Linked DNA regions of Homo sapiens: region 1 is linked to region 2. Evidence: fine-mapped expression QTL. Tissue or cell type: whole blood. Region 2 holds a variant in brackets; the other region holds the start of a gene. All regions are shown on one strand. Distances are from middle to middle.

What was found. PIP is the estimated chance that this variant, and not a neighbour inherited with it, causes the effect.
Region 1: NABP1 starts here. The variant in region 2 is fine-mapped to the expression of NABP1 in whole blood (INTERVAL, PIP 0.91).

Annotation. Positions count from the first base shown.
Region 1 is chr2:191,675,901-191,681,211 of GRCh38, reverse strand. It overlaps NABP1 (nucleic acid binding protein 1), which reads right to left and starts at 3,076. Exons shown (of 6, transcript NM_001031716.5): 1 at 2,507-3,076; 2 at 2,084-2,222. The coding sequence starts at 2,597. RefSeq lists enhancers at 706-1,905, 2,733-3,235, 3,445-3,524, 5,118-5,227 and silencers at 2,375-2,434, 3,035-3,384, 5,175-5,311.
Region 2 is chr2:191,578,949-191,584,337 of GRCh38, reverse strand. No RefSeq gene overlaps it. Among named protein-coding and RNA genes, the nearest start is that of NABP1, 96 kb to the left of the region's middle. The variant G/A (reference allele first, on the strand shown) is at 2,297.

The sequences.
Region 1 (5,311 bases), 97 kb before region 2:
ACTTACTATACAGTTCTCTTTACTTTAATTAAAGGGTTATTTATTAAAGACACCATTCACCACTCTTAAGTTATACAAAGAGTGGCTTAGGATACAGTGCATTAACATTTCACCTTACTAAAATAAAAATTAACCCATATTTTGAGAAAAAATTTGGTTACAATTAAAATATTTAACATTCACTTTAAGAAATGAGAACACTGAGGTAAGTTTTCAGGGTATTCTGATAAACATGTTGATATTTGAACCATTATTTAGATGTTAGGTATGTTTTTCTTCAAAAGCTACTTTTCTTAGATTCAACCAGAATTTAAGGGCCTTAGAATGAGCCAGACTCCAAGCTGAGTGTGTTGTTTTGGTAAATAAGGTATAATTATTCCCATTTCACAGAAGAGGAAGCTGAAGTATGAGGTGTAGTAACTTCTCAAGGTCATACTGAAGTAGTAAATAGAGTTTCTATAGTTTTTAATTTTCGTTTAAATTGTACTCCCAGGTAATTGTTCCCCTTAAAATTCTATAGTACCTAACTAATAAGTTTAATTTTCCAATAATTTTTTTGATGGAAACACCTATGACTGTCACTACAGAACATGAAATACTTGAAATAAGATGCCGTTTTTAGCGTAAAAAATACTTTCAATCATTGGGTGAAAAATATTTGGGGAGCCAAAAACTCCAATTATACTAATCAATCCTCACCATACTTCCCTAAGAAGGAATTCTCTTTTGTTTTTTAAAGATGTGGAAGTTTAAATTACTGTCATGAGTCAGTGTATGAGAAGAAAATGTCTAAGTCCTGACTCTCACTTCCTGCTTTGATGACACTTTACCTCACTTCCTGAAGATGTTGTAAGCCTGCAAGGTAACACCAAGGAGCTCTAAGCTCCTACTCTCAGTGCTTTCCAATACTTCTAAGATTCTACTTATTAGGCCAACATCAATCTCCACCACTTTCCCTGCAGTTAATGATAAATTATTACAATTTTATTGATCTCAAAAGCTTCCAAATTCTGTTTTTAAGATCCTTTTCTGCCCTTTTATCTTCCTAAGATAAAAATTTGGTAAATTTCTAAAAGCAATCTATTTTTTAAAAAAAAAGTTCTAGTATTTTTTAAAGCCACCTATCCGCCAACTGACTCTTTTGGATGAAGGTATTGTAGATGCCTTTCTGCCAAACATTTTCTGTGTATCCCTTTGGTTTTTGCGCAACATCCACCTTACAGCAGAAGACACAAGAAATCATTTTGGAGAATGAGCCTTCCAGATACTGTAAAGTTTCCCTCTTTTTCCAAGTACAAATTTGACATATCACAGAATATGCTAAATCCTTTACCTATAATTTTCATTTATGTCCACATTTCTAAATAACATATGTAAAATACTGGCCAGGATTTCAAGTCATTAAAAATGGAGAAGGGGTGGGAAACAACTGAGTGGCAACTACACTAGAGAAAACAACTTATAAAAAAGAAAAAATATGGACTATACCAGTCTCCTAAAAAGACTCACTGACTCAGAATAGAACTAAAAATCTATGCCGGGCGTGGTGGCTCACGCCTGTAATCCCAGCACTTTGGGAGGTTGGGGCGCGCGGATCACTTGAGGTCAGGAGTTGGAGACCAGCCTGGGCAACACTCTGAAACCCCGTCTCTGCTAAAAATACAAAACTTAGCTGGGCGTGGTGGCACACGCCTGTAGTCCCAGCTACTTGGGAGGCTGAGGCACGAGAATCTCTTGAACCCGCGAGGCGGAGGCTGCAGTGAGGAGAGATCACGCCACTGCACTCCAGCTTGGCGACAGAGCGAGACTCGGTCCCAAAAAATAATAATAATTAAAAATCTACTTAACCTGTAAACCGGGGTAGAGGCGCGGATTTCCCAGCTGAAACCGACTGCCTTTCACTGCAAAGGTCTGTTACATCCCAGCGCTGCCCACCACCCAAAGTTAACACCAAAGGAGTTCAAAACTCCTCAAGAGTGGCCCACAGAAAAGGCGGGGGACTTCAGGGCTTGCCAAGATCCCAGGAGCCGGCCAATCCCGATTCTGCAGACTGTTAGGTCCCCCGACTTTTTTGCACACCTACCCTCTGGTCAACCGAATAATATCCCCTGGCTGTATAAGACCTCCGATCTCATCCCACACGGAAATAGTGATGCTGCCCGTTTTATCTGCTACTTTGCACGATCTCACTTCATGGCCGTCTTTGGTTTTGGTCACGCGTCCTGTGAGGATTTAAAAATCAAAGGGAGGGGTTGTTAGATAATGAGGACATCCAGAAAGGCTAACTCCTCCTCCGGTATTTTAATACATCTGGAAGGTGGGAAGTGACCAAGCCCAGGGCTCCCGCCTCAGGTAGGATCCGATCTCGGGCGGAGGCCACTAGAGCCACGTGGGTGGGGGAGGGGAGGGAGGAGGAGGGGAGCCCCGGGCGCGCAGCGGCCGGCGCCCCTGTCTCCCGCCCCGGGAGGCACAGCGGGCGGTGGAGTAGGCTGCAAACCCCACTTACCTATCTCCAGGACAATAAAGACGACATTTAAGTTTTTCAGTCCGGGCTTAATATCTCTTATAAAAATAAGTGGGTCGTTGACCCTATTCATATTGGGACAGGCGCGGCTACGGCTGCGGAGACGCGAGTGGGCAGGGCGGGGTCAAAGCTTCCCACCCTCCCGGGACAGGGGCGAAGGCAGAGGGGCGACCTTGGGCAGGGGTGGCGAGAGAAGGGGCAGAAAGCCGTTAGTCAGGGACCGGGCAAACCAGCCCGGACAGCACTGAGCCTAAAAAAAGAAAAAAAAAAAAAAAAAAAAAAAAGGCTCACAAGTTCTAAAGAAAAAAAGGCGAACCACTCCGCACACCAACCCCGCTCCCAACCGGGCGACAGGAAGGCAAGCGTACTAACTGCCCCGTTCTTTGGATAAAAGGAAAAAAAAACGCAGTGAGGGGACACTTCTGCCCTGAGTCCCGCTCACTCACACGGGCGCGCGCCCAGCCTGTCCCGGGCTCCGGGAAGGAACGGGCTGTGACAGCGAAACGGGAGCGGAGACAGAACACCGCACACCCAGCGTCCCAAACAGCGACTGATGAACACGCCCGCGCGCCGGCAGGACCCTCGGCCCGCCCCTCCCCTTGTGAAGTCACGCTGCGTCGGCACGCCTGCTGCCACGCCCGCCTGGTGCTGGGGAGGGGAAGCAAAGGGGCGGGACCCGGCCGCCGCAGCCCGCAGAGCTTCCCTCGCTCCTCCCCGGGGGCTGTCAGCGCGGGCTCCGCCCCCTCGTCCTTCCAATCGCTCTCGGCCCCGCCTCCCCCGCCCTCCCGTTCTCCACCCACTTCAGCTGTCGCCGCGCAGCAGCAGTTCTGTTCGGTTTCGCCTTCCTGCTGTGCAGTCTTTTGACGCTTGCTGTCCAACTTTGGAGTTTTCTTGCCTTTTTTTCTCTCAGAGTTGAGCCCCTGCCCGGGCCCTTTAGTCCCTCGGTCACGAGGAACGGTAGAGTTTAGAACCTGTGAGTACGTTAGAAAGTTCGCAGTCGAGGAAGAACAGGGTTCGGGCAAGGGCAGCTGGTCCGGTACCAAGGGAAAACAGGCTGGGATGGTGAAGGCGTCAGTGGCTACAAGGCTGGAAGTTTAGCACCAGAAGGGAATTTGGAGATCAATTCAACCGCCTCATTTCAGGCATACTTAAATTGAAACCCAGAAAGATGAGGTAATTTGCAGAAGGTCACCCAGCAACCCCTGAGCAGGCAGGACTGCAACACAAATGTCTGACGTGGGCTTCCACTGTGTAATGCTAAGCAGATAGGACGTAAATTCCTTTGCAGACTTCTCATTTTTCCTTACCCCCTGCCTCTCATATTACACACCTTCCCCATTTAGCTTTTCTTCTTTTACTTTGCACTTGCTTTTGTACATCTAAAAGGAATTAATTATTCAACAGCAGTGGGAACCCTTGAAACATAATCTGGAAAAAAAGATTAATAAAGTTTTTTTTATGTCGCGTAGTGAAAAGAGCATGTGCTTTAGAGACAAACCTGGGCTCCAGCTATTTACTTGTGAGAGCTTTAGGTCAATTGGCTTTTATTACAGCTTTTTAACCATAATAAAATGGGGATCCCTGCCTAGCAGAAGATTGATTAAATGGATCATAAATTGTCCAACTAGTGCCTAGCAAATAGTACATACTCAGTATTTTCCCCTTTTTAATCCCCGTTTTACAGGCGATGGAACTCACCAGAGACCAGATAGCTAGAGAATGGCTGAGCTGGGTTTTAAATCTAGTCAATCTTGACCCCAGAGCTCTCCAGCCTAAAGGTAATGTTTAGACTTAACTTCCAGTGGTGTCATTATAAGAGTCAAAAACAGACTGAAGAAATAAAATAGCAGAATAAAGTAGTGGGGCATTAAAGAATCATCTAGTTAATTCTTGGTGATGATAACAGAAATGTTGGGAAAAGTGTCAGAAGCCTTAATTTTCTCCCCATTCTTTCTGAGTATCTTTAGATCAACCACCACTTCCCAAGTATTTGCAAACAAGCAGCATAGATATTATAGCCCTAGAAAGAGTTGGAAACATTATCACAACATTAGCAAGAGAGTCAAGGCATTTTTAAGGAAACAGAAGCTTCCATTTCATGAACTAATAAAGCCCAAGGTGCCAAAGACACTGATGTCATACTGGAAAGTGGTGTAAAATAAAATTATAAGCATAATTTCAACATCAAATAAAACAAATGATGAAACATGCCAGTTAATGGCAGAGCCAGCGTCCAACCTCAATCCCAATCCAGCTCAGAAGCTCTAATTCTACCATGGTTATCTGGCAGGACTTGACACTTCAATTGGATTGTACTCAAAGCTGTATTTTCTTAAACAGGCAAAATATTCTCACAGAAGCAATATTTAAGGCAGAGCTCTTTTTTTTTTTTTTTAAGGTTTGACAAGATCTTCAAAAGATTAAGAATAGACAGGAAACCAATTAAGAATGTTAAGAGTTACGGCCAAGAGTTTGGGCAAAGAAAGTTTGCCACTCAACTCTCAATCATTTGCCCCCAGAAAAGGGATTAGGTTGGGCTGTTCAGGCTAATTATATGAACATTTTATAAAAAGAAATCAGACACAGAAAATCAAGCCCCACAAAAGCAGAAGCTGGTACTCCAAGCTGTGGCTCAGCCCTTCCCTTCCCCCACAGGACAGAACTCAGCTGAACATCTACTTCCTTCCCTACTAACTCAGCAGTTCTCAGAAAGGAAATGGCAACCATATGCTTTCTCATTAACCAAAACGAAAGGCAGCCTTGAGAAACAAGATGGTCTGGGCAATA
Region 2 (5,389 bases):
CCCTGCCAGTAGAGAGAGTACCAGAGTCAGCTCCCAGTCCAAGAGAAGTAGGTGGCAGCTTGGGCTGGCTTCTGGATCCATCCCAGCACAGGTTTTTATCTTAAAAGTTTGTTTTGAGATGTAATTAACATATCATAAAATTTACTTATTTGAACTATACAATTCAATGATTTTTAGTAAATTCACACAGTTGTGCAGCTCTCACCACCATCCAGCTTTAGGATATTTCCAGCACCCTGCAAAGGCCTCCCATGCCCATTTGTAACTCCCACCCTAATGCCGAGGAACTACTAATCTACTTCCTGCTTCCATAGATGTACCTTTTTTGAATAGCTCATGTAAATGGAATCATGTGTGAATCCCGAAGGCCCTACTTGAGAGTGAAACAGTGCTTTTCCTTGACTCTGATTCTACTTTTGATAAGAAACTTCTCTGTCTGTTTGGGGGCTCAAGGATGATTTTAAGGCTCAGGCTGTCAGTGGCTTTTTAAGTCCAGGCTTATGTGGAACCCTACCCAAAGTTCTTTCACAAACGTAACTATTATCCGTTATTTCTTTCCTTGCTTCCTCAGCTTCATGCCTCTCTCACATGCACCCAATTTGATGCCAGCATCCCTGAAGTCATATGGTTTGGGAGAAAAAGCTACACCTTTAATTGTATTTCCTATTGTTTGGAATCTAGAAACGTTGGTGTTTCAATCTCTTTGATGCCCCAGATTTCTTCTCTCTCTGTATTTATTTTCATTTCTGCTTGGAACCTGTCAAGCTATTTACTGATTCATTTTTTTTTTTCTTCTAATACCTTCCTAATGGAAGCCAGTAACCACCAACACATATCACAAAATTCTGTTTTCCAGTCTCTTTCCCTAGAGCTACAGGCTCAATGAGTACCCGGCTGCATTTATGCTATTTCTGGTGACAGTTTTAACACACATTTTATTTTATGTACTTCTTTTTTAACTTTTATTTTAGGTTTGGGGGTACATGTGCAAGTTCGTTATATAGGTAAACCCATGTCACGGGATTTGCTGTACAGATTAATTCATCACCCAGGTATTAAGCCCAGTACCCAATAGTTATCTTTTCTGCTCCTCTCCCTCTTCCCACTCTCCACCCTCAAGTAGACCCTGGTGTCTGTTGCTTCCTTCGTTGTGTCCATGAGTTCTTATCCTTTAGCTCCCACTTGTAAGTGAGAACATGTGGTATTTGGTTTTCTGTTTAGCTCCATTCATGTTCCCACAAAAGACTATGAGCTCGTACTTTTCTATGGCTGCATGGTATTCCATGGTGTGTATGTACCACATTTTCTTTAACCAATCTGTCATTGATGGGCATTTAGGTTGACTCTATGTCTTTGCTATCACGAATTGTTAACACATATTTTACCACTGTATTACATGAGTCTCCATCTTCCTATCCTCTGATATTAATGTCCTCACTACCCAATGCTGATTCCACATATTTTAGGTTTTTATTACAGAGTAGTACCTAAGTTTCAATGGTAATATCTCTATTAGTTAAGATTATGCTAGCACTAAAATGTCTAAACCCCCAAATCTCAATATCTTAACATTTTATTGGAATTTTATTTCTCAATCTGATATCAATTCAAGCCAGTGGGAATGAAGGGTATTCTGCCCCACATTTCTTCAGAAACAGCCTGACAAATGCTCTGCTGTCTTTCTCAAATGCCTCAAGCTCACCCTGCACTGACACACCATCAGCAAATAAGGAAAGAGAGAGCCTTGAGAATTGTGTAAGAGGTCATTTTGGGCCAGACCTGGAAGCATTGTGCATGATTGTATCACTTCTGCCACATTCCTTTGGGAAGAATTCATTCTCATGTCCTTACCTCACTGCCAGGGAGGCTGAGAAATGTAGCCTATCTCTGTACTCAGAAGGAAAATCAAGCAAGTTTGGCAAACAGCTAGCCAGTATTTACCATAGCTTCATGTTAAACATTTAGCCTTTGACTCAATAATTCCAATTCTAAAGATCTTTGCTAAAAAATATTCTGAAATACAAACATGTTAATTCTTAGGTCATGTAAAGTCACAAAAATAAATATATAAATAAATAGAACACTAAATATAGAGTTCATTTATGTAATGGAATATTACACAGCAATTAAAATTTATGTTTCTCACCAGGTATGGTGGCTCACACCTGTAATCCCAGCACTTTGGGAGGCCAAGGCAGACAGATCACCTGAGGTCAGGAGTTCGAGACCAGCCTGGCCAACATGGTGAAACCCCATCTCTACTAAACAAATACAAAAATTAGCAGGGTGTGATGGC[G/A]TGTGCCTATAGTCCCAGCTACTTGGGAGGCTGAGGCGTGAGAATCGCTTGAACCCGGGAGGCAGAGGTTGCAGTGAGCCAAGATCATGCCACTGCACTCTTCACTCCAGCCTGGGTGACAGAGCGAGACTCTGCTCAAAAAAAAATTACGTTTATTAAAAATTTTAATCACATAGGAAAATGTTGCTGATGTAACATTAAGAAAAACGCCGGAAACAAATTTATACATATAATATGTATATATTTTTAAATAGAGCAGTAAAATTATTGGAAGGAAATATGCCAGAATGATGACACCTATAATCACCTATAATCTCACCTATAATGTATGGTAGGAGTACAGATTTGTCTGTTTTTTGTGTGTGATTCTTATGATCCAAATTCCTTACAATGTAGTGCCATTATAATCAGAGAGAAAATAAATATTATTCTAAAACATAATAAATTTATAGCCAGATCTATGCCTTCTAGTACTCTAACCATCTCAAATGTCAATATCTTTAATAACGAATTCAGCAAAGTAACATAATAATAAAGTAACATATCTTTAAATAGAAGTCAATATTATTGTTATTTAATCACATGCTTCAGAAAAATACTTTGAGATGGATAAAGCTAATACAATTTCCTCAGAGATGACAGTACTTTAGGAATGCAATTTTGACTTTTATTTCCCTACTATATGCCTTCTGTGTTTTATGTTTTAATTTCATTTACAAAAAATCCACAACTATTTCTGAAAATATCTTCTAATAGTCTCTCTCTCTCCCTCTCTCTCTGCAATATACAGCCTGTCAAAGTACACTTCTCCAGCTGCTGGCAGATGGCCTTTATCACTCATCAAGGTTTTTAGCAGAAGTTTATTTTGTGTATGTCCATCAACTTCTGTACTTGGGACAAACAGACAAAAAAGACCAAAATCACCAGATTATTACCACATTGTTTCTCAGAATATAGAATGGATGGTGGCCACATTTCATGAACAGTTTCTATCAGCACTTATTTTCAATCTTAGACTCTTCATAACCAGATATTCCCAAATCCCTTATACTTACCTGAAATGAAGCTATTATTCTCACCTATGTATCAGTACTGTGAATCTATCGATTATCAGTATTTAAGTTAAGAGCTGTTGATTTTTCTGATCACATTTGAGGGTTCCGTGTATGTTAGAATGAGTGATGCTCATCTTTTTCGGCCGTTGTGGAAATAGGACTACTTACCCAAATTTTTGGCCAATTAACCTCCATGACTCATTATGCATACCCATTCAAATGTGCTCCCATGGGACTTGTGTGTGTGTAAGTGTGTGTGCATGTGTAATATACATATATACACATAAGACATTGTGAAAATAAATCAGGGGATAGTATATAAAATGGTGTGTTCATGCTTTTTAAATAAAGTACTTTGCACTTAATTTTTTTCTATTTAAAAATGAATTCATATCATTCTGTTGCCTCACTCATATTCTAGTATTTAGATTGTTTTCTATTGTGTTTTATTTATTTTTTCTTTTATTTCAGAAAAGGAAAAACTTTAAAATCCAGATATCTTATTAAATATCTTTTTTACTATTTCCATTTATGAATATATTTTTTGTTTCTGACAATGCTTAATGTACAATGGGTAACTATGAATAGTAAAAGTTGTATGGAACTACTAACACAATTCTGAAATCTAATCTTTAATATTTTGCCAGGGATTATGTAGAAACTTATAATTATGTTTTACTTTGGATTTACCCCATCTTTACTTTATCTCACATTAAAATGTAATCAAAATCAGCCTGTTTCCAATCGGTTGCAAATCCCCTTCTTAAAGCACCTATTCAAAAGTTTCCCCAATTTTCATTTTCTCTGTATTTTCTTATTATATTAAATCCTGATATCTGAAAATTGAACCATATAGTAGCATTGCCATATTCCTTTAAAAATACAGATCATATCTATTCTTCCTGTATTTTCCAATTATAACTGTGGTTTTTTTAATCCTTGACAGGTTGCAATTAGATTTCTAGTATGCCATTGTATTACAGTAAATACCATTATTATGGTAGAAATAATTCACTTTGTTTAGTGCACTGTTCAGATAGTCTGCTGAGATGACTCTGATACCAAATGTCATTTTCATTCTTTAATTATAATTTTTAATCTTTTCTAGTTTACCATTCTTTCAGTAGATTAATTATTTTTATTCTAAACTTCAGAAATTGTCTGAGTTTAATAATGTTTATTAATAAGAATTATAATATCCTATTGCTTTTATTCCACCCCCGCCCCCAGAACAGTAGGAGTAATTTTCTTATTCTCCAACTCTCTGACCTGTAATATACTGGAACATTGTGTGGAAGAACAACCCTCAGATGCATTTAGTAGTTGAATGCATTTCTGAGCATAGTTGTTATTGCATTCCAAATAGTAGTTACCACCTGAAAAGTCACTCCATCAGGAACAGAGTTTCCTTTGTCTGGGGCTGTTGTTTATATACACAGTGTAAAATTAGGCCAAATTCTGACATCACAAACAAAATTTAAAGCATGTATATATTAAACACATCCATAATAAGATTAGATGCCCTGTGAGGACAGGGACAATGTCTATCATACTTAATCATTAAATCCCTAGGACATACTACAATGCACTGGCACATAGTAGGTGCTCATTAAAGGTGAGTTGGCTGAGTAAGCGTGCACATGAATGACCCTCATCGGATTATGTGTTCAGTTGTTGTCTCTGTTGCTGCATGCATGGATACATCTTTATCTAAAAAGTTCAATTCAATCTAAGCAAATCAGTATGAGTGAGCAATGCAGTACAATGGAAGAGGATGTAACTCTACAATCTGATTAGAGCTAATTCTCCTTCTATTTCTCCTAGTGGTGTGATTTGGTCCAACTTGTTTTTATCTCTCTTAGCCTTGATTGCTTTATCCATACAATAGAAAAAATAATGTCTACCTCCCAGATTTGTTGTGAGAATTAAATGAAGCATTATTTGAAAATTGTCTACTACTTAGTCTAATTTGAGTATTCGTGATCATTAGGTTTGGGGGATAAATATTGGCAGCCTTGAATACCAGTCAGTGATTGCT